Linked DNA regions of Homo sapiens: regions 1, 3, 4, 5 and 6 are each linked to region 2. The links come from fine-mapping of genetic effects on gene expression. A gene starts in region 2. Each other region holds a variant in brackets. All regions are shown on one strand. Distances are between the middles of the regions.

Region 1 (4,080 bases), 63 kb after region 2:
TCTGCAAACCCATGGCTGTTCTCCCATTTTCTTAGGCCAATAGCTTCACCGTCTCCTCTGTCGCCGCCCCTTCCTGGCTTCACCGTTTCATCATTGGCAAGAAAGGGCAGAACCTGGCCAAAATCACTCAGCAGATGCCAAAGGTAAGGACACGTTTTTCACCTGTTGTATTGAATTTGTCTTGTTTTCTGTCTTTCTGTTTCTGATATTGCTTTGTTGACCTTTGTACTGTGGATGCCCTTGAAAACTGGTGTATTTTTCTGAATTAACTGGCCTGTTTGACATGGTCAACTTCCGTGTTAGCTTAAAGAACAGCAGAATAAATGTCTGTAGATGTCTGTACCATCCTTCTGGCCTTTAACCAGAGAGGATTGTATGTTCTTAGGTTTCATAAGTATCTTAAGAAACATGTCATTTAGTAATTATGGTGAAATAACTTCATGATACTTTGGCGGGCCGGGTGCGGTGGCTCATGAGGTCAGGAGATCGAGACCATCCTGGCTAACATGGTGAAACCCCGACTCTACTAAAAATACAAAAAATTAGCCGGGCTTGGTGGCGGGCACCTGTGGTCCCAGCTGCTTGGGAGGCTGAGGCAGGAGAATGGCGTGAACCCGGGAGGTGGAGCTTGCAGTGAGCCGAGATGGCACCACTGCATTCCAGCCTTGGCGACAGAGCGAGACTCTGTCTCAAAAAAAAAAAAAAAATACTTTGAAGAGCAGAACTTGTATACAAATTGTATTAAGTGTGAATTTAAAGCGTTCTCAGTTTACCAAAGGAGATTGTAGCCCCCAGGAAACATGAACAAAAAAGAAATACCAGAGAATCCAACCATCATATTTAATTCCTGTTTTATTTAAACTTTGTTTCCAATTAATGTTACAGTCCTTTTTAAAAATTAAATTTTTTTTATTTTATTCCTTTTTTTTAGTGACAAAGCCTCACTCTGTCACCCAGGCTGGGGTGCAGTAGCGCAGTCATAGCTCACTGCAGCCTTGAACTCATGGGTCAAGTGATCCGCTCGTCTCAGCTTCCCAAGTAGCTGGCACTACAGGCGCCCCAGGCTAGTTTTCGTGGAGGCAGAGTCTTACTAGTTGCCCAGGTTGATCTCGAACTCGTGGGATCAAGTAGTCCTCCTACCTCAGCCTCCCAAAATATTGAGGTTATGGGTGTGAGTCACTGTGCCCAGCCCCTTTTACTTTGTATAGCTTCATATAAGGACCAGTCTGCCTTCCTTAACTCCTTACCTGGAGGATAATAAACCAGGAACTCTGGCAGCCTTGTCTATGTCAAGCAAGTTACTTTACCACCTTGGTACAGCTATACGAGTTTTAAAATTCCATCCGTGCTCTGTCTCATTCTTTATGCAACTCAAGAGGACCAGGCCTTGTAAAAGTTCAGATGGTGGAGGAGCATGTCGCATGTCGCATGCTTTATGTTAGTGGCTTCTGTGGGGCAAACGGTGTCCTTAGTGAGAGGCAGGATTATTCGGCCACAGTATTTAGTTTCCTGACTATGGCTCCCTAACCCTCCCTTTCAACTTTGTTTGATGGCTGTGGATATGTCCCTCCCTCCCTCACATCTATGTGAAGCAGTTTGGGATCAGAAGCCGCTCCGAAGAGAGCTCCCACTGGGAGCTCAGGGGCTGCAGCTGTGCCATTCTGTTTTAGCTATCTCTTTGGTTTTGGTGTGGTAGGTTCACATCGAGTTCACAGAGGGCGAAGACAAGATCACCCTGGAGGGCCCTACAGAGGATGTCA[A/G]TGTGGCCCAGGAACAGATAGAAGGCATGGTCAAAGATTTGGTAAGGTACCCCTTGGAATGTTGTGTGTGCTGGTGACAAGGGAGGCTCTGAGTTGGGCATGGGCGGTCATCTCTCGATGACATCCCACATGTCCGGGCACAGACACCCAGGGCATCCTAGCTGGGTGAGTAATAGGTTCTGAAACAACCAGAAGCTGGTCGAAGTCCTGGAATAATCGTGGGTGGAGGAAACTTCATCTTGAAGAAGGCATCTTTCAGGGGAGATGCAGGGGCAGTCTCCAACAATTCCTGACAGCTGAGTGGTCAGAAAAGGCAACCGTGGAGACTGCTGGGTTTTGGTTCAGCTCATTGGCCAAGTAACCAGGCGCATCCATGGACCTCTGTGCTCCTCCTGCAGATTAACCGGATGGACTATGTGGAGATCAACATCGACCACAAGTTCCACAGGCACCTCATTGGGAAGAGCGGTGCCAACAGTGAGTGAGGCTGTCTGTTGCGGTGGGGCCAGTGTGCCCTGAGACCCTTGTGGGGGGTGTCAGCTGTGAGAACTGTGACGTCCGTGCAGACAGTCCAGGCCCATTGCTGCCTGTAATGGGAGTTACAGACTTTACATCCTCCTGCCTGCTGGAAGAGGCCACTTTTCCTTTTCCCTTTGGTGCAGTGGTTGGATTAGAGCTGCTTGGCCAGTGGGTGAATTGTCACTTTTGGAAATCCATCTAAGCCCTCCCCAAATAACCCACAGAGGCCATGTTGAAGGCATGCCCAAGGGCAGCATTCTCTATATTTCCGTCAGACCTGCTAGGTTAGCCAATCAGTGTTGGTAGTACTCATGCCTTCTGAACGTGGAAACTGCTGATCTGGAACTCACTGAAGAGTAAAAACATTCTAGATTTGTGCCCAAGTAAAACAACATGGGGAGGGATACTTTTTTGAGACAGGGTCTCACTCTGTCACCCAGGCTGGAGTGCAGTGGCGTGATCTCAGCTCACTACAACCTCTGCCTACCGGGCTCAAGCAATTCTCCAGCTTCAGCCTCCTGAGTAGCTGGGACTACAGGTGCATGCCACCACAGCCAATTAATTTTTGTATTTTTAGAAGAGACGGGGTTTCACCATGTTGGCCAGGCTTGTCTCAAATTCCTGGGCTCAGGTGATCTGCCCACCTTGGCCTCCCAAGGTGCTGGGATTAAAAGTGTGAGCCACCACACCCAGCAGGGGGATTCTGTTGAAGAGGCAGTGATATGTCAGCCAAGGTCGCTATATGCCTCACCTGTGCCAGGTTGTAGGTGTAGCACAGTTACAGGACACTGTTGGAAGTATGTCATGTGGGCCAAGGTCGCTGTGTGCCTCACCTGTGCCAGGTTGCAGGTGTAGCACAGTTACAGGATGCTGTTAGAAGTGTGTCGTGGGCATTCTGCTGCAGGTCCAAGGATGTTTTGTGTTGTTTGTTTGTTTTTTGGGACGGAGTCTCGCTCTGTCACCAGGCTGGAGTGCAGTGGCGTGATCTCAGTTCACTGCAACGTCCACCTCCCAGGTTCAAGCGATTCTCCTGCCTCAGCCTCCCAAGTAGCTGGGATTACAGGCGTGCACCACCACACCCAGCTAATTTTTTTGTATTTTTAGTAGAGATGGAATTTCACCATGTTGTCTAGGCTGGTGTCAAACTGCTGACCTTAGTTGATCTGCCCACCTCGGCCTCCCAAAGTGCTGGGATTACAGGCATGAGCCACTGTGCCCAACCAAGAATGTTTTTTTACACCTCTTTGTTTAACTGTATGGCTATACTCACACACTCGCGTGTTCTGAAAACAAGTGCACACGTCGCGTGTGTTACCTTTGGGTGGAAGGTGAGAAGGCAAGCACGTCCTCCATTCCTGGATAGTTCAGTGGATGAAGGAGCCTTTCCCAGGTAGTGGGACACCGACCTGCATAACATGACTGACGTCCGTGTATCCGTTTTTGTTATGAGTAAACATAGCCTTGGCAGCTGTGCTGTGGCCTGTGCAATGGTGAGCTCTCTGGTGTCAGTCTTATGTTTTGTGGGCATTTTACGTGACAGCGACGAGAGTCTGTAGGCACAAAGTGACCTTTTTGCGCACTACTTGAACCACACATACACCATAAACTTGCTTTTACGGTTTTGTTTTGGTTTTGGTTAACTGTAGCGTTTGTTTAGGCCTGACACGGTGGCTCTTGCCTGTAATCCCAGCATTTTGGGAGACCAAGGCAGGAGGATCACTTGAGCCCAGGAGTTCGAGATGAGCCTGGGCAACATAGTGAGACCCCTGTCTCTACAAAAAAGAAAAATTTAGCCAGGCCT
Region 2 (4,087 bases):
AAGTTCACATGGAAAGATTAAATGCCAATGCTGAGGATAGAAAAGAGCAGGCACTTACCTTATCACCTATTACATGTATCTGATTTCAAACCCACACAGTGCAACATAGAAATACCATAGAGCACCTCTCCCGCACCTCCACAGAACCCCTCAGCCTCACTGAACCCTGTGCACACATATGGGAAAATGGAGAAACTATTTGTCTTAAACTGACATTTCAACTTTGCTTTGACTTTACCAAGTTTCTCCTGCCATCTTTTTTTTTTCCTGTTTTTTTTTTTCTGAAACATAACTTGGATCCACAATGTTTTCTCTCATAATTTATTAACTAATGTGAAATGGAAGGTGAAAGAGGAATTATGAACCTCTGAAGCACATGGTTTTCAGTGAGAAAGCCTTGATCCAGCAACACAAACTGCCAAGCACTGTGATTAACTTAAACACTGGGTGCAAATTGGACCAAAAATGTAGTCAAATGAAAATTTTGTTCCTTCAGATCGTGTTTATTCCACATGCCAGAAGTTGTTTAAAGTTCTTTAATCTTGACCCACAGCTTATTTCTTCCACAGAATAACCCCAATACACATAAAAAACCAATTTTCGCAAAACAAAAGATAGAAGATGAACAACATCTGGCGATGTAGAACCCGGAAGGTCCATGATCTTATTCAAAGCATCTGGATTCTTTGGATTCGGGGAAGGTCCACGTTCAGTATACCCACATAACACTCCTAACAGGGACTGGGGCAGGGATAAGTGGCATGTATGACTACTAACAGAACAGACAATACAAATGGCCTTACCTCACCTCTGCTGCCAAATGAGTTTTGGTGTCCCCATTCCTCCAGACAAAAAAAAAAAAAAAAATACCCACAACTTCTTCTTTTACAGCAGTTTCTGTATGCTGGTATTGGGGATAAAAAGGGGCCCTGAATTACATTTATGAATGATAGAGGGAAACCCTGGCCCCTTTCCCTAGGTCACCTTGCTAGTTTAAGAGCCAGTCAGAATGTAAATCTGATCTAATTAAAACGCTCTTGTTCTTTATTCCTGGCTGTGGCACTGGTGAGAGAAATCAAGGTGGAAGTTGAGGAAAAAAAATCAGGACAACCTTTATAGCTAATGAGATCAATGCCAAGATTATACATAACAGTACACATCATGAGTTAGGATGCTGGGTGGTGCAAAGAACCCATTAATGGGAGCTATCAAAAATCACTGAAAACAATGAGGCTCAAATCAGAAGTATCAAGAATCAGCTTTCATGACCCCTACACCATGATGTTTTTCTTTATGACGGCAGAACTATTTTGAAACATTAAATATATCGGCAGGCACTGTGATTCAAAAAGTATTTGAGAACCTACTAGGTGCTAGACACCAACCGAGGCAATGAGTATGGGTGACAACATGTGCCCTGCCCTCACAGCACCAATAGTCCACTGGACAAATACCATCTGGAACATCAGGTAAACACCTAAGCCTGTCTGGAGGAAATCTAATTTGGGCGGAATCCCACAAGCACAGACTAGGTAAGGAGAAGGCAGTTAAGGTGGGAAGTAGCCAGATTTAAGAGTTTGGGCAATGGCCAAAGGTGCAGAAGTTTGAACTACAAGAAGTTCAGTGTAGTTGGTTCGTGTGTTTCCGTGGAGAGAGGACAAGGTCTGGTGGCACTGACAAGAATTAGACCGAAAAGGTAAAAAAGCAAGCCAGGTTTGTCTGGGCCAGTAGGCCAGGTCACAGTTGGGACTCCACTGAGACCACGGAAGCCACAGGTTTGCTCCTCATCCCCGGGCCAACTCGGCGGCCTCCAACCCTATACCCTACCCCCTGCTGCCTGTCCGTGCCTCGCTGGTGCAGACCTTCGTCGCCTCTCCTCGCCGAAGGTACCCGCAGACAGGGCCTAGTCGCTCTCCCCTCGCTTATCCACGGCATCCAGCCGATGGGCTTGGAGGTTTGGGGGCTGGCCAGTCCTCCACGCCTCAGGGAGGAAATGGCACCGTTAGAAAGACAAGATGGCCACACAAGCTCTAAGTGTTTGTCGGGCCTAAACCTGTATCCTCCCTCCAAGCACCAAACCTCCCGACCTCGACCGCACTCGACGCCCCGAGGCCCAGCACCGACGACAGTGCAGAGGAATTCCCGCAGGGTCAACAAGGGGTCACCGGAATCCCCACTCCCGCGCCCGGGCCTGCCCGTGTCGGAGCCACTGTCGCCGGCACTAGGACCGCCCGGGACGGGGGAGCCCACGATAAGTGCCGAAGAGCCTGGGCTCGGCCGCCCCTCCCCCACACCGCCCCGCCGGCACCCCAGAGCCAGCCGACCACCGCCCGAGAGTATGGGACGAGCGGCGCGTCCCCCGCAGCTCCTCGGGAGGGCCGGCCCACAACTTGTGCGGGGTACACCGGCGAGACACTCACCCGCCAAACAGCCCGAGAACAGGCGCCGACCGACCGCGCCGCGGACCCGCCCAGCGCTCGCGGTCCGCTCACAGCCCGCCCCAGCCCGCCCCGCCCCGCCCAGCGCGCAGGCGGATTGCGTCACCGCGTCACCCCGCCCCTTTGCCAACTGCTTCCTGGCTCAGTGCGACCTGGCCTTCTTCCCCTCCCCCATGCGGCCGGCTTCCGAGTGCGCAAGCCCAGAGTCGTCCGCGTTGTCCGCCTCTGCGCAAGCGCCGTGCTCCTCCCACGGCAGTTGGCCATATAGAGGCTGGGGGTGGGGGGGGAGGTCAAGCGTAGCCTCTTCTCCTTTACCAAGATGGCGGCTTGTCCCTGTTTCGCCACAGTTCCTACCTTATGAGCTCGGTTTTCTTATGCTTATAAGAGTGGAACAGGTAATGAGAATCTTCGCCTTGCGGTGGGTAACTGGAGTGGGGGGAAGGCCGTTTGTTAGAAGGAGACAAGTGCCCACTGAGGAGGAGAGAGGCGGTCGCGGGAGGGCAGGTGGTGGCGGGAGTGCGGAGCGATCACGGGGAGGGGGAGCCTTCGCCTCTCCTCCTGTCCTCCAAGAAGATGGCGGCAGCACCGAGCTGGGGCGCCGAGTACGACTGGGCGGGGGACGGCGAGCGGCCGCGCGAAACTCGTCTAGCCCACCACCGCCGCCGTCTCGATGATCGGGGGGCCTCTCTGGGATTGGCTGCGCGCACGTCACGTGGGGCCGACGGGCCCTGCGCAGACCATCGAGTCGGGCGTCCCTCCCCGGGGACGTGGCCTTCCTGTGCCCGGGCTGGGGCCCGCCGCCCCGCGGGGGAGGGCGGAGCTGGCGCGGCCCCTAGCTTTCTCCTTCTGGTGTGGGGCCCGAGGTGAGACCTGGGGAGTGCTCCGCGAGCCCACGAGCAGCGACGTGGCTCGGGGACGGGAGGGTGCCGTGCCTGGCTGCGGCCTGAGCGGGATGGGCGCGGGCGGCTCCGGCCCGCGGGTTGTGCCCCGGCCCGGGGTGTCCTTTCCTCCCTCCCGCGTGGCCTGGAGGCACTGCAACTGTTCGAGACTCACGTCAAGGCTTGGCGCAAATACCCCTCGTTCAGGAAGCCTTCCTAGGTTTCCCCCGCTTAGAGGAAACACTTCCTGAGTTCCTAATGGCTGACCCGCATGGTGTTGGGAACCTGAGCCTTTCTGACACCGTGGCATGTTGCTAGGGTATTTTTGTGCGTAGCTCCTTTGAAAAGTGGTTAGGTGCTCAAGGCTAGCTGCTACATATCCTCTCCATTCGACTTAAAAAATGAGAGGGTCAGACTTGACATGGTGTTTGGACGCCATGTAAAATCGAAGGAAGTCGACTTGGGCTTTGCTTATTAAACAGTGCCTATTATGGTGAAATTAAACGGCTGAAGGAATGTGGATGAGTCGTAATCTTAAGGAACATGACGATTTGCCCCTCAGTTTTGCGTTTTATGTCCTCAGATTCATAGCTACCTATACCCTAAGCCCTCAATCAATGACTTCACATTTATTTGGTGTCTGCTTAAGGATAGTCACTTTCTTAGCAGCTAACTTCCTTAAAACCCTATTAAGATAGGTTAAGTCACAATTAGGGTTTTGTCTAAGGCTCCTGGTAGCGGCACATTGCATAATAAGCTTAATGTTCATTT
Region 3 (4,087 bases), 93 kb after region 2:
CTCATCCCAAAACCTCCCCCATTTGGGTGCTTGCTGGGTACTAGGCCCCAAGGAACAGAGGTAAAAACAGCAAGAGGGGCCCTGGGCCAGGGGCCAGGAGCTGGGAGAGGGAGGGAAGTTGGGCAAGGATCAAAAGGACACATGTAATTGCTGCAGAATGCAAGTAAAGCGGCACTGTCAGAGGCTGCCTGTAGTGGCTAGGGGGAAAGCAGAGCCTGATTCAAGAAACAGAAGAATCCAGAGGACCCAGATAACTGGGAATGGAGGGAGGGGTTCAACAGACCTTTGCTGTGGCCTGGGACACAGAGCTGCAGGGTCCGAGAGCTGGGGCATGTGGGTGATGTCCCTGCGCAAACAGGGCAGGAAGGGGCGGGTGGGTCCAGAGGACACGAGGGAGAACGGCCCTGCGCTCTGAAACATTCGAAGGTCACCAGGTGTAAGAGGAGAGGGCGATGTGGCCAGGGGCGGCGAGGACCACAAAGCCCACCTGCCTGAGGAGAACTGTCGTGTCCAGGGGCCTGGGGAGGCCACCGAGGGACAGGGTCCCTTGGGTGCAGGGGCCCCTTGGGCTTATGTCTGGGAGCAGGAAACAAAGAGGGCCTTGTGAGCTGACGGTCCCTCCCTGCCGGGGATGGAGTGACAGGCGCTCTGAGGAGAGAAGCCGGCGCTGGGGGGAAGCAGGCAATGTGCCCAGAGATGAGGCACAACAGCAGCCAGCGGTTCACACAGCCGCTGCCTGAGGGAAGAGGAAAAGGACGCTGCTCGCAGGGCTCAGGAGGGGCCACTCCCCTAAGGACCACCAGATGTCCTTCCAGGCGTCACTGCTGCAGCTGGCTGGCCTTGGGAACCGTGAAGGGTGTCCAGTGGGAGCTGAGCTGGGGAGAGGGTTGGGGGCAGGGACAAGTCAGACTAGGGCCAGGAGCAGGCCATGGCCACGAGGCACAGTGGGCGGCTGGGCAGGGCCCTGTGACCTCAGGGAGTGCACGGGGCAGGGGCCTGGCTGCTCCCAGACTTGCCTCTGAGCCCTCGGGCTGCTCATCCTTTGTTCCGTTCGTTCCAAAAAGAACCTGTCCCCAAAAAAGGGCAGCAAGAGGAAGAGGGATGTGACTCAGTGTCCGGAGGTAGAGCAGCCACTGACAAGGATAGGGAGAGGGCTGGGGGGAGGGCCGAGACTGGGCTGTACAGTTCACCTCATTCTCAGCCAGTGCCTGCTTAGCCAGGTAGTACTCCCGCTTCACTTTGATCTCCACAGACTCTGGGATGTCAGGCACCAGGAGGTCCAGGAGGCGGCCAACGGAGAAAACCACATGCTGGGAGCAGAGGAAGGCACTCACGCCCACCCAAACGCCCAGAGTGGCCTTCACAGGGCCAGGCAGGCCGGGGCTCCGGCACCTGCTCCCAGCTGTGGGTGGAGTCAGAAAGCAGCTGTGCAGGAAAAGGAACCCCAGAAGGGGCAGAGGCCACCCCAGCTTTCGTGGCCCTGGGGCTCCTGTGGAGACACCCACAATGTCCACACCACAACCCAGGGATGAGGCCAGGCAGGGAAAACGCAGGTGCAGAGAAGAGCTCTGATTTGACCAAGATGACACAGCAGGAAGTGACGGCACCGACCCCTCACCACGTGCTCGAATTAGGCAAAGCACAGGGTCGGGGCCTCATGCCATGGATGGGAGAACCAGCAGGTGCCTCGGCTACCTCAAACACAATGACGAAGGCCAGGCGGATGGCAAGAAGATTCCAGTAGGTCTGGGAATAATGTCCATCGTCATCCCGGAAAGCCCGATACCTGCAGCAGACACAGGACTCAGTGCGCGCAGCCAGGGCTGAGTGTTGGCTGGGCAGGTGCCTCTGGAATTAGCCTATCTCCCCTTTTTCCACCATTTCGCTCTCTCATCCCATGTTCCTGGCCTGGCTCTTCATCGAGGGTGCCTGAAATGGGAATTCTTCCCAAACAGGATACTCTGACAATACCTTTAACTGGTGGGTTCCAAAGGTGGATGTGCTGGGTTGTCCCCCATTGGGCTAAACTGGACCCTCCCCACCCCCCAGGTGGCAGATGCTTTATTTTCTAGTAGATGTGACAGTCCAGTACGTCTGTGCTTCTACGGATGACTTCAGTCTACTTACA[C/T]GGTGAAAATCCGCCGATTGCTGACCTCTGTGAGATCAGCAGTTCACCTGCTCAGAGACTGTCCCTGTCCAGCAGAGCCCTCCCTCCCTATCATAAGCTACATTCAGCTTCACTTGCTATTTCAGACTTTGACATCTTCCTGTGTCTCTGTCCCATGGTAAAGATGTGACATTCCATTTTCTAATATAAAGTTACATGTTGCACTCCATGAAAACTATTACCAGGGTCAACTTTGTAGGAAAATAAAAAAAACAAAAAACCAAATATTGCAAGTTAAAAATATAGCCATTGGAAAAAAAATCCCTCAAATGAATGGAATAAACTTTTAAGTGGCCAGACACAGCAGAAGAGAGACTGGGGACTGGGAGACAGTGACGACGAGACCACCCTGCGGCAACACAGAGAGCACACTTGGGGGGAAGCAGGCCACAGCCCAGTGGGAGTTCCAGACGACAATGGACAAGCAGAGAAGCACTGCTGGAAGGAGTAAGATGGAGACATTTCCAGAACTAAACAAAGACGTAACTCTTTCAGCCGGGCGCGGTGGCTCATGCCTGTAATCCCAGCACTTTATTTATTTATTTATTTATTTATTTATTTATTTATTTATGAGACAGAGTCTCGCTCTGTTGCCCAGGCTGGAGTGCAGTGGCGTGATCTTCGCTTACTGCAACCTCCGCCTCCTGGGTTCAAGCGATTCTCCTGCCTCAGCCTCCTGAGTAGCTGGGACTACAGGCCCGTGCCACAATGCCCAGCTAATTTTTTGTATTTTTAGTCAAGACGGGGTTTCACCGTGTTAGCCAGGATGGTCTCAATCTTCTGACTTTGTGATCCACCGGCCTCGGCCTCCCACAGTGCTGGGAATACAGGCATGAGCCCCCGCGCCCGGCCATCCCAGTGCTTTAGAAGGCTGAGACAGGTGGATCACTTGAGGTCAGGAGTTCGAAACTAGCCTGGCCAACATGGTGAAACCTCCGTCTCTACTAAAAATATAAAAGAGTAGCTGGGCATGGTGGCAGGCACCTGTAATCCCAGCTACTCAGGAGGCTGAGGCAGGAGAATCGCTTGAACCTGGGAGGTGGAGGTTGCAGTGAGCCAAAATCATGCCACTGCACTCCAGCCTTGGCGACAAGAGGAAAACTCCATCTCAAAAGAAAAAAAAGAAATAATCCCTTCCCTAGGCCAAGTGCAGTGGCTCAACACTTTGGGAGGCTGAAGTGGGCAGATACCTGAGGTTCGGAGTTTGAGACCAGCCTGGCCAACATGGTGAAACCTTTGTCTCTACTAAAAATACAAAAAAAAAAAAATCATCTGGGTGTGGTAGCGCACGCCTGTAATCCCAGCTACTTGGCAGGCTGATGCACAAGAACCCAGGAGGCGGGGGTTGCAGTGAGCCCAGATCACACCACTGTACTCCAGCCTGGGTGACAGAGCAAGACTCTGTCCCAAAGAAAAAAGAGAATAGGACGGGCGTGAAAGGTGGCTCAGGCCTGTAATCCCAGCACTTTGGGAGGCCGAGGCAGGCGGATCACCTGAGGTCAGGAGTTCAAGACCAGCTTTGCCCACATGGTGAAACCTCATCTCTACTAAATATACAAAAATTAGCTGGGCATGGTGGTGGGCGCCTGTAATCCCAGCTACTTGTGAGGCTGAGGCAGGAGAATCGCTTGAACCCGGGAGGCGGAGGTTGCGTGCAGTGAGCCAAGATCGCGCCATTGCACTCCAGCCTGGGCAACAGAGCAAGACTCCGTCTCAAAAAAATAATAATAAAATAAAATAAATAAAAAAATAAAAATATCATTTTCTTTGATTTGTTTCACCAGCAGGCATCTGTAAAGGTAGTGCTTTTTTCTTTTTTTCTTTTTTTTTTCCTGAGACAGCGTCTCATTCTGTTGCCCAGGCTGGAGTGCAGTGGCGCCATCTCGGCTCACTGCAACCTCCGCCTCCCGAGTTGAAATG
Region 4 (4,087 bases), 140 kb before region 2:
CCGCCCCTGCCCCCGCCCCGCCCCGCCCAATCAGCCCAAGGAATACCGTGAGAAGACTCTCAGGGACAGAAAATACAGCAGCTGCCACGCTGCCCCCACCTCTAGATCAATGTCAAACCTGACCCCCAGCAAGCTGGGCTGCAGGCCAGGGATGAGACGGCGGCCAGGGATAGGCCCAGAGGAGCATGCAATTCCTGTGAGCTTCGCCACCTGTCCCCACATGAAGGGTCTATGTGCCCATGCAGAGCGTGGAAGAGGCTTCTGCCACCTTTGGCTTTCCTACCTTTCGACTGTGGCCGATCCTCACAAATCTCTATTAAAAAGGGGACAAACAGTGCATCAAGTGGGAGACACTGGGGAGGAGGGCACCAGCTGGCGAGGGTGGGCTGGAGGGTGGGCAGCTCTTTGCCCCTCCCCGCACAGCCCAGCAACTGGGTGCAAGTGCAAAAGCTTGACGGGTGGCCTCAGTGGCAGCACGTGCTTCTCAGACCCCTGTCACCCTGGCTCCCCAGGAGAGTGGTCTGCCAGGCCTTGCCAGCAGAACCGTCAGTGAATGTGGGGCCGGGGTCTCCCCAGAACCTGTTGCAGCCTGGCTGGGCACACTGGTTCATGAGGTCAGCACAGAGGGGTACTCTGGTGGGAACCTACCTCTGGGTCAAACCAGCAGCCCCTGCATGGTGATGAAAGGGCCATCCTTGCCATCTCGGAGCCCACCTGTGCTGGGCAACAGCCTTGCTATCTCAACTCACACACACAGAATTGAAGCAGAGCCCAGAGCCCTCCCTCCAGAGCCCAGGTGTTGAGGAGAGGCAACAGGAGACACCACGTCAGGGCTGAGGGTGCCCACACGCAGGGGCTGGGCCCAAGGGCTGCCGAATCTTTCTCTGCAGTGACCCAGCCACCAACTCCTCAAGGGCATGGCTCGGTGAGGACCCTGAGGTGCCCCCATCCCAGAGGGCCTTGCCATGCTGCTGGCCCCATGCCACGTCATGACTCACAGGCTTCTCCCAGGGCCACTTGCCACCAGCCCAATTATCCTCAGATGTGACAAGCTGTCATCCTATAGAACCATCTAAAGAATCAACTGATTTTTGTAATATAAAAAGTTACAAATTAAAATTTAGTCTTAATAACAGACTGCTTGGTAGCCATTTTTTTTTTTGTACCAAAGAAACAGTGAACTAAAGAGATTGTCATTAGGTTTCCAAAATAAAATAAAAAGACATCTTTTTTGGAAACAGTCTTGCTGCCAGGGCCCAGAACTAGCCCTCACTTGCAGGCCTCGTGCAGCAGTACGTTTAATATCCTTTGCTGCCTCCAGACCAGGGGGCTCCTTCCACTCCAGTGGGATCCAGGGGGACCCTCAGGGCACCAGGAAGGAGGAGACTGCCCTGCCTGTGCCATCCTACCTGCTGAGAGTCCCAGCATCCCACGGGTAGCCCTGGCATCTGGAAGGCAGGCCTTGGACAGAATATCCTCTGGCCAATTCGGGCCAAAGCAGGAGTGCTGAGGTGTCACAATGACATACCTCCCCCTGTACCAGCACTGACTCCCTCCCTCCTAGAGGCCCCATGGCCTCTTCCCATCCAGCTGCCACTCAGGGACCCCATGTCTCCCTTCTCTGTGGACTCCAGGCCCAATATAGTCTACAAACTCCCTGGACCCTGAGTCTTTTCTTTTAGGGTCCATCTGCAAAACCGTAGCTGTAGGCAGACTCCCCTGGGCTAGGAGAGTGGAGGCCACCCTGAGGCCACAGCATCCCTGCCCCTGGTTGCCCTGTGCCTGCCAGCAGTGAGCTTCTCTGCTCGGTCACTTTCTCCCTGCAGACTCTCAGTTTGTGCCCTTATTCCTATCATCTCTGATAAAAAGAGACCCATAGGGGACACTGCCTCAACTTTGTCATAAAGCCTCACCCCTGTCTGTGGCCCATGTGCCCCCC[T/G]CCCCGTGCCACAACAGCAGAGAACCGCCCCCTCGCCCCAGGTGGCTCCTCCACTGTCTCCAACATCGACACGGGGTCTCCCGCCCAAGAGCCTCTCCAGAACCCAAAGCGGTCCCTAGTGCACCCTCCCTTAGCACCCAGATGTTTCTACACTGGGTCTCCCGCCCAAGAGCCTCTCCAGAACCCAAAGCGGTCCTTAGTGCACCCTCCCTTAGCACCCAGATCTTTCTACACTGGGTCTCCCGCCCAAGAGCCTCTCCGGAACCCAAAGCGGTCCCTAGTGTACCCTCCCTTAGCACCCAGATCTTTCTACACTGGGTCTCCCGCCCAAGAGCCTCTCCGGAACCCAAAGCGGTCCCTAGTGCACCCTCCCTTAGCACCCAGATCTTTCTACACTGGGTCTCCCGCCCAAGAGCCTCTCCGGAACCCAAAGCGGTCCCTAGTGTACCCTCCCTTAGCACCCAGATCTTTCTACACTGGGCCTCCTGCCCAAGAGCCTCTCCGGAACCCAAAGCAGTCCCTAGTGCACCCTCCCTTAGCACCCAGATCTTTCCTCCCAGTTACTCAATTGTCAAAGTAGAAGCTTGACCAAGCAGGGAGAGAAGAAAGGAGCAAAGGAGGGAGGACGGGAGGGAGAAATGAGGAAGGTGGGAAGGAAGGAAGGAAGAGTGGGGGAGGCTGGAAGATCCAGCCTGACACATGGAGCCTGTGGGTTCCAGGGACCGTTTGCTAAATGAATAAGGAAACTCGTTTTTGTACGAAGGAACCTGGAGTCCCAGAGATAAGAGGAAAGTCTCAGGAAGGTTTTGCTAGGGAAGGCGGCCCAGTACCTCCTCTCTGCTCAGGAGGCTGGTAAGGCGGCTGTGAGTGCAGAGCCCTTCCCTGCCCCGCCCCAGGGTCCCCACCAGCACCACCCGAAGGAACAGTGAAAACAGGCCCACCCTGCAACCCTCTGCTAGCTTCTCAGCCTCGAGGGGCCCACCTTGTGTCTGGGCTCCTCGCAGTCCATCCCGGCTCCGCCAGCATCACTGAGGACAGGGCTCAGGAGTGGGGATGAGCCCTGTTCAGCTGGGCCCAAAGGCACCTGAAATGCAGGGCTCAGACTCAGGGGGCTCTTCCGGCTGGAGGGAGAAGGCTGAGGACTCTTCGTGGAAAGGCCTGGAAATGAACGGGGAGGGGGATGGAGCGAGAAATGAGAAAGGGCTGTGAGGCTGGCTTAGAGCCGCTACTACTCTCCTGACCATTCAACCGCCAGCCTCACACAGTGCCAGGCGCTTCCTGTAAAATGTGTATGTACAGCCTCTATCACACACAATTCTAAACATGACATAAAATGAAAATGAGGGTTGATGGTTCATCTACCCAATTTCAGAGAGCAATCCACAGACAGTGTGGATCCTCCCCGGACTCTAGGGGGGCCTGGATACCAACCTTGTGTTTCTAGGGGCTTCTTTTGGGCTCTGCAGAATATGTAACTATGATAAAACTAAGCACCACAAAGTGTGTAAAGCAAAAGGCACCACCAGGACGGGGGAACACTTTCTATGTGCATTGCTAGAGGTTAGAGACTTAAGATGTCAAACCAGGGCTAACATCTGAAAAGACAATGTCTATTTTAAGGCCAAACTTATTATTCATTAAAAAACGGATCATATAAAACTGCTCAATTCATGATACTGTTTTCCAGTTCCTTGAGTTTTTCATTAATGGGGATTTTATTTTGGTTTTCTAAAACACAGTAATAATTTTCCCCTTCTTAAAACCATGTTTGTTTTCGAATAAATAGGTGCCAAATTTGCAGCCCAATTCTAAAGATGATGAAATATATTTCATTGTGTATTTTATAATAAAAAAATCCTTTTCTATTTAAAAAAATTCTCAAAGGTTAATTTCTAATGTTTTTCTATGGGAAACCAGTAACTATTAAGTGCCAAATTTTAAAGATAACTTTACCTCGCTAACACGGTGAAACCCCATCTCTACTAAAAATACAAAAAATTAGCCGGGCATGGTGGCAGGTGCTTGTAGTCCCAGCTACTCGGGAGGCTGAGGCAGGAGAATGGCATGAACCCAGGAGGCAGAGCTTGCAGTGAGCCGAGATCGCACCACTGCACTCCAGCCTGGATGACAGAGCAAGACTCCATCTCA
Region 5 (4,087 bases), 82 kb before region 2:
CTCTTAGCTGTACCCTTTTTCAACTACCTGGCTGCCCCTGTGAGTCAATGGGGAGGTCAGGGTTCCCCGTCCTACCTGAGCCCCTGCACTGCCTAGAGTAGTGCAGCCAGAGTGTGCTCCAGGAGCCCTGCCTGACTACACTAATGAAGGCGATAGACACTAACCACGCAGGTGCAAGCACATTCACAAGGCACCTGTTAACCAGCAATGTCCAACACCCAGGACAGGGTTTGTAAATACGGGCACAAAAATTCACAGTTATATGGGTATTTGTATATATACACACAAACAAACATATGTATGTGTGTTTAACCTTCAGTACAGGGAGGATGATCTTTTCATGAATGGTGCCAGGGAAACTGCATATCCATACAGGTGAAAATAAGCACTGACTCCAACCTCACACCATGCACAAAATTAATTCAATATGAATCACGGAAAGGCACAACAATAAAGCTTGGGGTAGGCAAATATTTCTCAAACAGGACACAAAAAACACTAGCTCCCCCACCCCCAAAAGACTGATATCGACTACCTGAATATTACAACCTTCTGTATATCAAAAGACACTGTTAAGATAGGAAAAAGGCAAGCCACAAAATAGAAGATAGTTGCAATACAAAAACCCAACAAAGAGGCTGGGTGTGGTGGCTCATGCCTGTAATCCCAGCACTTTGGGAGGCCGAGGCAGATGGATCATGTGAGGTCAGGAGTTTGAGATCAGCCTGACTAAAAATACAAAACTTTCACTACTCTCTACTAAAAACACAAAAATTAGCCGGGTGTGGCGGCGTGTGCCTGTAGTTCCAGCTACTTGGGAGGCTGAGACAGGAGAATTGCTTGAACCTGGGAGTGGAGGTTGCAGTAAGCTGGGATCATGCCACTGCACTCCAGCCTGTGCGAGAGAGCTAGACTCCGTCTCAAAAACAAACAAACAAACCCAACAAAGGTCTTGTAGTCAACATATATAAAGATCTACAAATCATAAGGAAAAACCAGACAACCCAATTAATGACAAATGGGCCGAAAGACTTAAATAGGCACTTCACAAAAGAGGATATTCAAATGTCCAATAAACAACAAGAAAAGTTGGACAATATTACATCAAGGAAATGCACACTAAAACCACAATAAGATACCACTAGACCCTCACCAGAATAGCTGAGAATATAAAAATGGATAATCCTAATGTTGGCAAGAAAAGTAGAACATCTGGAGTCTCAAACACTGTAAATTTGTATTATCTCTTTGGAAAACTGACAGTATCTACTAAAGGTATACAGAAGTATACCCTATAACCTAGCAATTCCAGTCCGGGGTATAAACCCAACAGAAATATCTGTTTATAGAGACCTAAAGACAAATTCAAGAATGTCTGGTTGGATGCGGTGGCTCACGCCTGTAATCCTAGCACTTTGGGAAGCCGAGGCAGGCAGATCACCTGAGGTCAGGAGTTCAAGACCAGCCTGATCAACATGGTGAAACCCCATCTCTATTAAAAATACAAAAATTAGCCGGGCGTGGTGGCACAGCCTGTAATCCCAGCTACTTGGGAGGCTGAGGCAGGAGAGTTGCCTGAACCTGGGAGGCAGAGGTTGCAGTGAGCCAAGATTGCACCACTGCACTCCAGCCTGGGAGACAAAGCAAGACTCTGTCTCAAAAAAAAAAAAAAAGAATGTTCACAGAAGCTTTACTCATAGGAGCTCAAAACTGGAAACTACCAAAATGTCAATTAAACAGCAGAATGGATAAACAGTGATTTGTTTTTACAATGGAATACTACCCAGCAACGAACAAACAAGCAAACCACAGCTATACCAACAACACTGATAATTTTCACATAGTACATATTGTATTCATGTACCTGATAAATATATACATACTTAAATGAACCTGAAGATCTGGCAAAACTAATTTATAATGCTAAAGATCAAAACACTGGCTACTTTTGGGGGTCATAACTGAGACAGGCACAGGGAGCCTGTTCTACTCCATTCTCTGGGTGGGGATACATAAGTGTATACATATGAAAAATTATCAAGCTGCACACATAAGACACATGCACTTTCTTATGTAAGTTATATTTCAATAAGAATGTAATTAAAAGGAAAAAAGGGCCAGGCATGGTGGCTCACGCCTGTAATCCCAGCACTTTGGGAGGCCGAGGCGGGCGGATCACGAGGTCAGGAGATCGAGACCATCCTGGCTAACATGGTGAAACCCCATCTCTACTAAAAATGCAAAAAAAATTAGCCGGGCATGGTGGCAGGCGCCTGTAGTCCCAGCTACTTGGGAGGCTGAGGTAGGAGAATGGTGTGAACCTGGGAGGTGGAGGTTGCAGTGAGCCAAGATCACGCCACTGCACTCCAGCCTGGGCGACAGAGCGAGACTGTCTCAAAAAAAAAAAAAAAAA[AG/G]GAAAAAAGGTTTAAAAAACCTTTGGAGTTCATGAAAATTGATCTTTCACATTTTATAATAATCCTCTCTACAAAAGTCTCTGAGCTGTGAACTTCGCCTCTGCTTGATACACCAAGAACCTACAACTCAATGAAGCAGCTGATTCTACCGCTGGACAGTTCTGCTTGAAAATAATTCCTAGCCTTTCGTCTAAATGTCTCTCCAACCTCTACCTCCCTAAATCCTCACCTGATCAATCTCTTCTGGACACAGTTCAGCTTACCAAGGTCTCTTTTAAAATGGTCACGCAGAACAGAATACATATCACAGAAATTACCCAAAAAAAGACAAGTTTGGTACAGTGTCTACACTATGAAGTTTGATCACTTAACATAGATCACTGTATGCAAGTTAAGTTATTCAGAGAACAAAACTTTATACTTCATGAGAACAAATTTTCTAAGGGGACTACACCAAAACACACATCAATCTAGTTTATTTATTTATTTTTATTATTATTATACTTTAAGTTTTAGGGTACATGTGCACAATGTGCAGGTTAGTTACATATGTATACATGTGCCATGCTGGTGTGCAGCACCCATCAACTCGTCATTTAGCACTAGGTATATCTCCTAATGCTATCCCTCCTCCCTCCCCTCGCCGCACAACAGTCCCCAGAGTGTGATGTTCCCCTTCCTGTGTCCACGTGTTCTCACTGTTCAATTCCCATCTATGAGTGAGAACATGCGGTGTTTGGTTTTTTGTCCTTGAGATAGTTTACTGAGAATGATGATTTCCAATTTCACCCATGTCCCTACAAAGGACATGAACTCATCATTTTTTATGGCTGCATAGTATTCCATGCTGTATATGTGCCACATTTTCTTAATCCAGTCTATCATTGTTGGACATTTGGGTTGGTTCCAAGTCTTTGCCATTGTGAATAGTGCCGCAAGAAACACACGTGTGCATGTGTCTTTATAGCAGCATGATTTATAGTCCTTTGGGTATATACCCAGTAATGGGATGGCTGGGTCAAATGGTATTTCTAGTTCTAGATCCCTGAGGAATCGCCACACTGACTTCCACAATGGTTGAACTAGTTTACAGTCCCACCAACAGTGTAAAAGCGTTCCTATTTCTCCACATCCTCTCCAGCACCTGTTGCTCCCTGACTTTTTAATGATCGCCATTCTAACTGGTGTGAGATGGTATCTCATTGTGGTTTTGATTTGCATTTCTCTGATGGCCAGTGATGATGAGCATTTTTTCATGTGTTTGTTGGCTGCATAAATGTCTTCTTTTGAGAAGTGTCTGTTCATGTCCTTCACCCACTTTTTGATGGGGTTGTTTGATTTTTCTTGTAAATTTGTTTGAGTTCATTGTAGATTCTGGATATTAGCCCTTTGTCAGATGAGTAGGTTGTGAAAATTTTCTCCCATTTTGTAGGTTGCCTGTTCACTCTGATGGTAGTTTCTTTTGCTGTGCAGAAGCTCTTTAGTTTAATTAGATCCCATTTGTCAATTTTGGCTTTTGTTGCTATTGCTTTTGGTGTTTTAGAAATGAAGTCCTTGCCCATGCCTATGTCCTGAATGGTAATGCCTAGGTTTTCTTCTAGGGTTTTTATGGTTTTAGGTCTAACGTTTAAGTCTTTAATCCATCTTGAATTAATTTTTGTATAAGGTGTAAG
Region 6 (4,087 bases), 67 kb before region 2:
CATCAATTTCTTTACTGAGGAAAATTAACAGCAATAAAAGAGTTTTAGTTTTTATAACTTACTTTCTAGCAACCATTTCCAAAACAAGTTTGCCCTCCTCTAGTGTTCTCAGTTTTCTCCAAATTTGATTCCTCTAAATAAGTAAAATTTGAAGATTCATTACGAAATCCTGTGTTTTACTAAGAGCTGATGAAAGACTCGCAAGATGGTTGTTTTTGCTTATGTTAAGCTAACAAGTCTAATTTTATATGATGTTAGGACTTATGTACAATTTACAATTTCATTTCTTAATACAATTAATATTCATAATTAAATTTAGGACATGTTTCTATTATTTTCTATGTTTTTAAGAAATTTACAATTGATGTAAATTAAAGCCAGAAGCAAACAATATAAAGCTGAATAACCTTGATTTAAGATGTTTACTTTAAAAGAGCTCACTGTGTATTTTTAGCATGTATGTTCCAACATTTTTCCTAGGATAGTAATGTCTAGAGCCTTTAAGCCATGTTTGAGTTGTCTTAATTGAAAATTGCTTTAATAAAAAAGAGGTTTTTCTTCTGCTACAAAGATCTGACTTTACCAGTTTCAAATATCAATACATGCAAAAAGCATATGGATGCATATTAGCAAGGACCAAACAAATCTAAAAAGTGTAATTATGAGAAAACATCATCAATATCTAAAACCAGAAGATTAAGAAGGAATGTATTTTTCATAATCAGGAATATTAGATTTATTTCAAAGAAATATATTTTAGATTGATCCATGAACTTATCAGTTGCATCTCCAGGATGCAACGGATTCTCATCACTAGCTTTTCAGAAGTTTATTAGTTCCAGGCAAGTGTTTAAGATTGTGGATCAAGGAGGAAAGAATATCTTTCTGACTTTCCTAGAAACCAGAAAAAGCCTTTAAGTAGGACTGGGATCCCCTCTACCACTGTGGCAAAAAGCTGCTGCTATATAAAGTGCAAAACTGTACATGTAAAGCATCATTCATGTGCATAGAACATTCCAGAGCATTCCAATAACAACAGTTGGAAGTGCCAACAGATACTTTTCATGTTTCTCTTTAATGACCAGTCTAAATTTCTCTAAGAATAAAAGTTCAGAAGTCGAAGACTGATGACAGTTTAGAAAAGCTGTCTTTGGGTGACTGCAATGTCACCCAAAGGCTTCCACTAGGTCATGGTGAATGCCAAGTGTCAGAATATCTCTGACACTTGGCATTCACCATGACCCAGCGGGATAACAGTGGTGGCTTCACAGAAGGGCAATGTTAGCACCTTCTGGAAGGTCACAGCAATGGCCGCCTTGCATCTGGTGCACTGAAAAGAGCTCACATTCCTTCAGGACATAGCAACAACGCTTCTTCCCACCAAGCCCAGTGCCTGAGAACCCTCTCCTCAGATGCCTAATGAGCCTCTTCGACTCCACATGGCCCCAAACCAAAGCAGCTCTTCCCATGGGCTCCCTAGTGCAGGACATGGGAGCTCAGGCCCAGTCCTTGCACCATGTTGGCTCCTGGGTTTCTGATCCTCCACATCAGCACCAGCAAATTCTGCAGGCTCCACCTTCAAAATCTCTCCAGGATGCAACTGGTTCTCACTACCTCCCTTGCTCCCTTCTGCCCAAGCCACATCCTGGGTCACCGCAAATGTCACCCAAAGGCTCCCCTCTTGTCCTGACCTGGTTCTGGACCAAGTCATCACGTCCTGGGTGGAGTTCCATTTCCCTCCATGTGAGCAGAAGCCCTCCTAGATGCCTCTCTGCTCCACTCCCACCACATGGTCTCTTGCTAATCCCCAAACGTGCCAGATGGGGGTCACCTAATGGCACCTGCATGTGCTGTTCCATCCACCTGAACACTGTTCTCAAGAACAGAGATCTGTGCCGGCCCCTCCCACCACAGGAACAGGGCTGTGGGAGTGTGGGATGTGGATCTCCATCTGAGCGCAGCTCCATGTCTCCTGCTCCCTCCGTGCTTTATTTCTCTCCTGGGCACTAAGCACTTCGCAGTATACCTTGTCCACTGTTGAGCTCCCCACTGCCGAACAAGCGCAAGGAGGCAGAGCTCCTGTCTGCTACGTTCACTTTGGCACTCCCAGCTCCGACGGCAGAGGGTGGTGCACACCGAGGCTCAGCAAATACCTGCCAAACACGTGCTGGCCTAAGGCTGTTGGGGTGAGCACAGCCCAAACCCACATCCCATCTGTGTGGCTTTCCGTAATTTTTCTATCCTTTCCTTCACCATAAGTAATCACTTTCTGCGAAGTCTCCAGCACTCCTCGATTCTTATTTCCTTTTTTATTTTACTTCCAACACAATGTATTCAGTATCTTCCCAACTCTTAAGTTATTTTTAAACTTCAAATATGATGTAGACCAAAAACACCAAAAACTGCACAAAACAAAAAATAAAACAGACAAGTCTGATGAAAATGTGAATAAAAATCCTAACTTTTGCCTATTAAACAGGAGATGTTACTAAAAATTGTAATATGAAATGTCCATAAAG[G/A]TGAGAGAAATGAACACCTGCATATACCACTGGTAGGGGCATGAGGTGCTTCTGCTGTTTCTGGAATACAATTTCACAACATGTATCAAAGACCTCAAAACTGTACATACACTTTGATGAAGAACCTCCACTTCTATACGTTTACCCCAAGGAGATAATAAAAAATGTGTATAAAGATTTTGTATAGACTGGGTGTGGTGGCTCACACCTGTAATCCTAGCACTTTGGGAGGCTAAGGCTGGTATACGGCTTGAGCCCAGGAGTTCAAGACTAGCCTAGGCAACATGGGGAAACCCCATCTCTCCAAAAAATGCAAAATTAGCCGGGCATGGTGGCACACATCTGTAGTCCCAGCTACTTGGGAGGCTGAGGTGTGAGGATCGCTTGAGCCCAGGAGGCGGAGGTTGGATTGCACCACCGCACTCCAGCCTGGGCAACAGAATGAGACCCTGCCTCAAAAAAAAAAAAAAAAAAAATAGATTTTGTACAGAGAAACTGAAAATAGAACACTATATAGCCATTAAAAACTTTTAAAAGACCATATAAAAAAAGTTCAGAATATAATGTTTAATTTTTGAAAAGACTACAAAAATGCACATAGTTCAGTCCCAATTTTGTTTAATATAGGTGAACATATAAAAGGCCAGAAGGGTATTCAGAAAAATGTGAATGGTTGTTCTCTCTGGGTAGTTATCTTTGGCTGTGGGCCACTGTGAGTTCCTGTTTTTCTGCAGCGTACAAGTATTAATGGTATAATGAAAACCGAATTACATTTTGGATGAATTCCCTCTAAAAAAAGAAGCATGAGGAACCTTGAGAGATGGCGTTGATTGGTCTTCTAGCTGCAGCATGTAACCCAATGGGCCTTTGCTCGACATGCAGGAAAGGACTTGGGGGGCTTCACCAGGGGCAGCTTCATCCCCAGAAAGCTGAGATGCTGCAGTGCAAGTGTTAAACCACTGTGAACACATAATCTGTGAAATAATCATATAACTTGAAAAATATACATGTAACACTTGGTAAGGTAAAAAAGTAGAATGCACTCTCTCAAAGAACAGAGATCACTGTAATTCTACCATCAGCTCTCTGGAGATTCATGACTACTTTCTATACCTAAAAAGGAACAATAATGTAGAATTAGCTTCCTTACGTGAGGCCGATATGACTGAAAAATGCCCCCAGAAGTGAAGTGCCAGCAGAACCCTGAAAAGCACTGCACCTTCCAGCTGTGGAGAAGAGGGCTCTGAGGTCTGTTGTGTTCAAGGATGAACAGAAGGGGAGAAATGAGGGTGAGAAAGAAATGGCATCAGCAAAAGGTGCCTGATGGATGAGGCAGGCTGAGGGGAGCTCAGGTGGGAAGTCCACGCTCCAGAGCCTGTGAACTCTTCTCAAAGTCAGCGGTCCTCAATCCTGCCTAGAGCACCTTGAGGAATTTCTCCACAATACAACAACAAGCAGCAGGCCGGGGTACAGCTGAGTCTAAAAGGTTTTGGGCACTAGAGGGGAGTGGCACCCCAGGACAAAGTGGCTGGCGGTGGCAATCAGAACAGGCCAGGAGCGGCACTACT

Evidence for each region. PIP is the estimated chance that this variant, and not a neighbour inherited with it, causes the effect.
Region 1: its variant is fine-mapped to the expression of SEPTIN2 in whole blood (TOPMed, PIP above 0.99).
Region 3: its variant is fine-mapped to the expression of SEPTIN2 in whole blood (TOPMed, PIP above 0.99).
Region 4: its variant is fine-mapped to the expression of SEPTIN2 in whole blood (TOPMed, PIP above 0.99).
Region 5: its variant is fine-mapped to the expression of SEPTIN2 in monocytes after Pam3CSK4 (Quach 2016, PIP 0.95). The same link has a PIP of 0.9 or more in monocytes after LPS.
Region 6: its variant is fine-mapped to the expression of SEPTIN2 in whole blood (TOPMed, PIP above 0.99). The same link has a PIP of 0.9 or more in blood mononuclear cells.

The regions. Positions count from the first base shown.
Region 1 is chr2:241,251,114-241,255,193 of GRCh38, reverse strand. It overlaps HDLBP (high density lipoprotein binding protein), which reads left to right. Exons shown (of 28, transcript NM_005336.6): 9 at 36-143; 10 at 1,697-1,801; 11 at 2,159-2,237. Among named protein-coding and RNA genes, the nearest start is that of HDLBP-AS1, 19 kb to the left of the region's middle. The variant A/G (reference allele first, on the strand shown) is at 1,761.
Region 2 is chr2:241,314,316-241,318,402 of GRCh38, reverse strand. SEPTIN2 (septin 2) reads right to left here and starts at 2,478. Exons shown (of 13, transcript NM_004404.5): 1 at 2,421-2,478. It overlaps HDLBP (high density lipoprotein binding protein), which reads left to right and starts at 2,731. Exons shown (of 28, transcript NM_005336.6): 1 at 2,731-2,833. RefSeq lists enhancers at 1,281-2,005, 1,956-2,015, 2,006-2,730, 2,656-2,755, 2,776-2,825 and 1 more and silencers at 2,206-2,555, 3,096-3,475.
Region 3 is chr2:241,220,885-241,224,971 of GRCh38, reverse strand. It overlaps ANO7 (anoctamin 7), which reads right to left. Exons shown (of 25, transcript NM_001370694.2): 22 at 1,696-1,786; 23 at 1,191-1,310; 24 at 1,017-1,067; 25 at 1-875. The coding sequence ends at 819. Among named protein-coding and RNA genes, the nearest start is that of ANO7, 34 kb to the right of the region's middle. RefSeq lists enhancers at 1-952, 1,074-1,243 and a cis regulatory region at 1,158. The variant C/T (reference allele first, on the strand shown) is at 2,129.
Region 4 is chr2:241,455,757-241,459,843 of GRCh38, reverse strand. FARP2 (FERM, ARH/RhoGEF and pleckstrin domain protein 2) reads right to left here. Exons shown (of 27, transcript NM_014808.4): 14 at 2,922-3,097. Among named protein-coding and RNA genes, the nearest start is that of MIR3133, 20 kb to the left of the region's middle. The variant T/G (reference allele first, on the strand shown) is at 1,940.
Region 5 is chr2:241,396,159-241,400,245 of GRCh38, reverse strand. The region is part of intron 2 of FARP2 (FERM, ARH/RhoGEF and pleckstrin domain protein 2); the gene reads right to left. Among named protein-coding and RNA genes, the nearest start is that of FARP2, 42 kb to the right of the region's middle. The variant AG/G (reference allele first, on the strand shown) is at 2,414.
Region 6 is chr2:241,381,201-241,385,287 of GRCh38, reverse strand. All of the region lies in intron 2 of FARP2 (FERM, ARH/RhoGEF and pleckstrin domain protein 2), which reads right to left. Among named protein-coding and RNA genes, the nearest start is that of FARP2, 27 kb to the right of the region's middle. The variant G/A (reference allele first, on the strand shown) is at 2,520.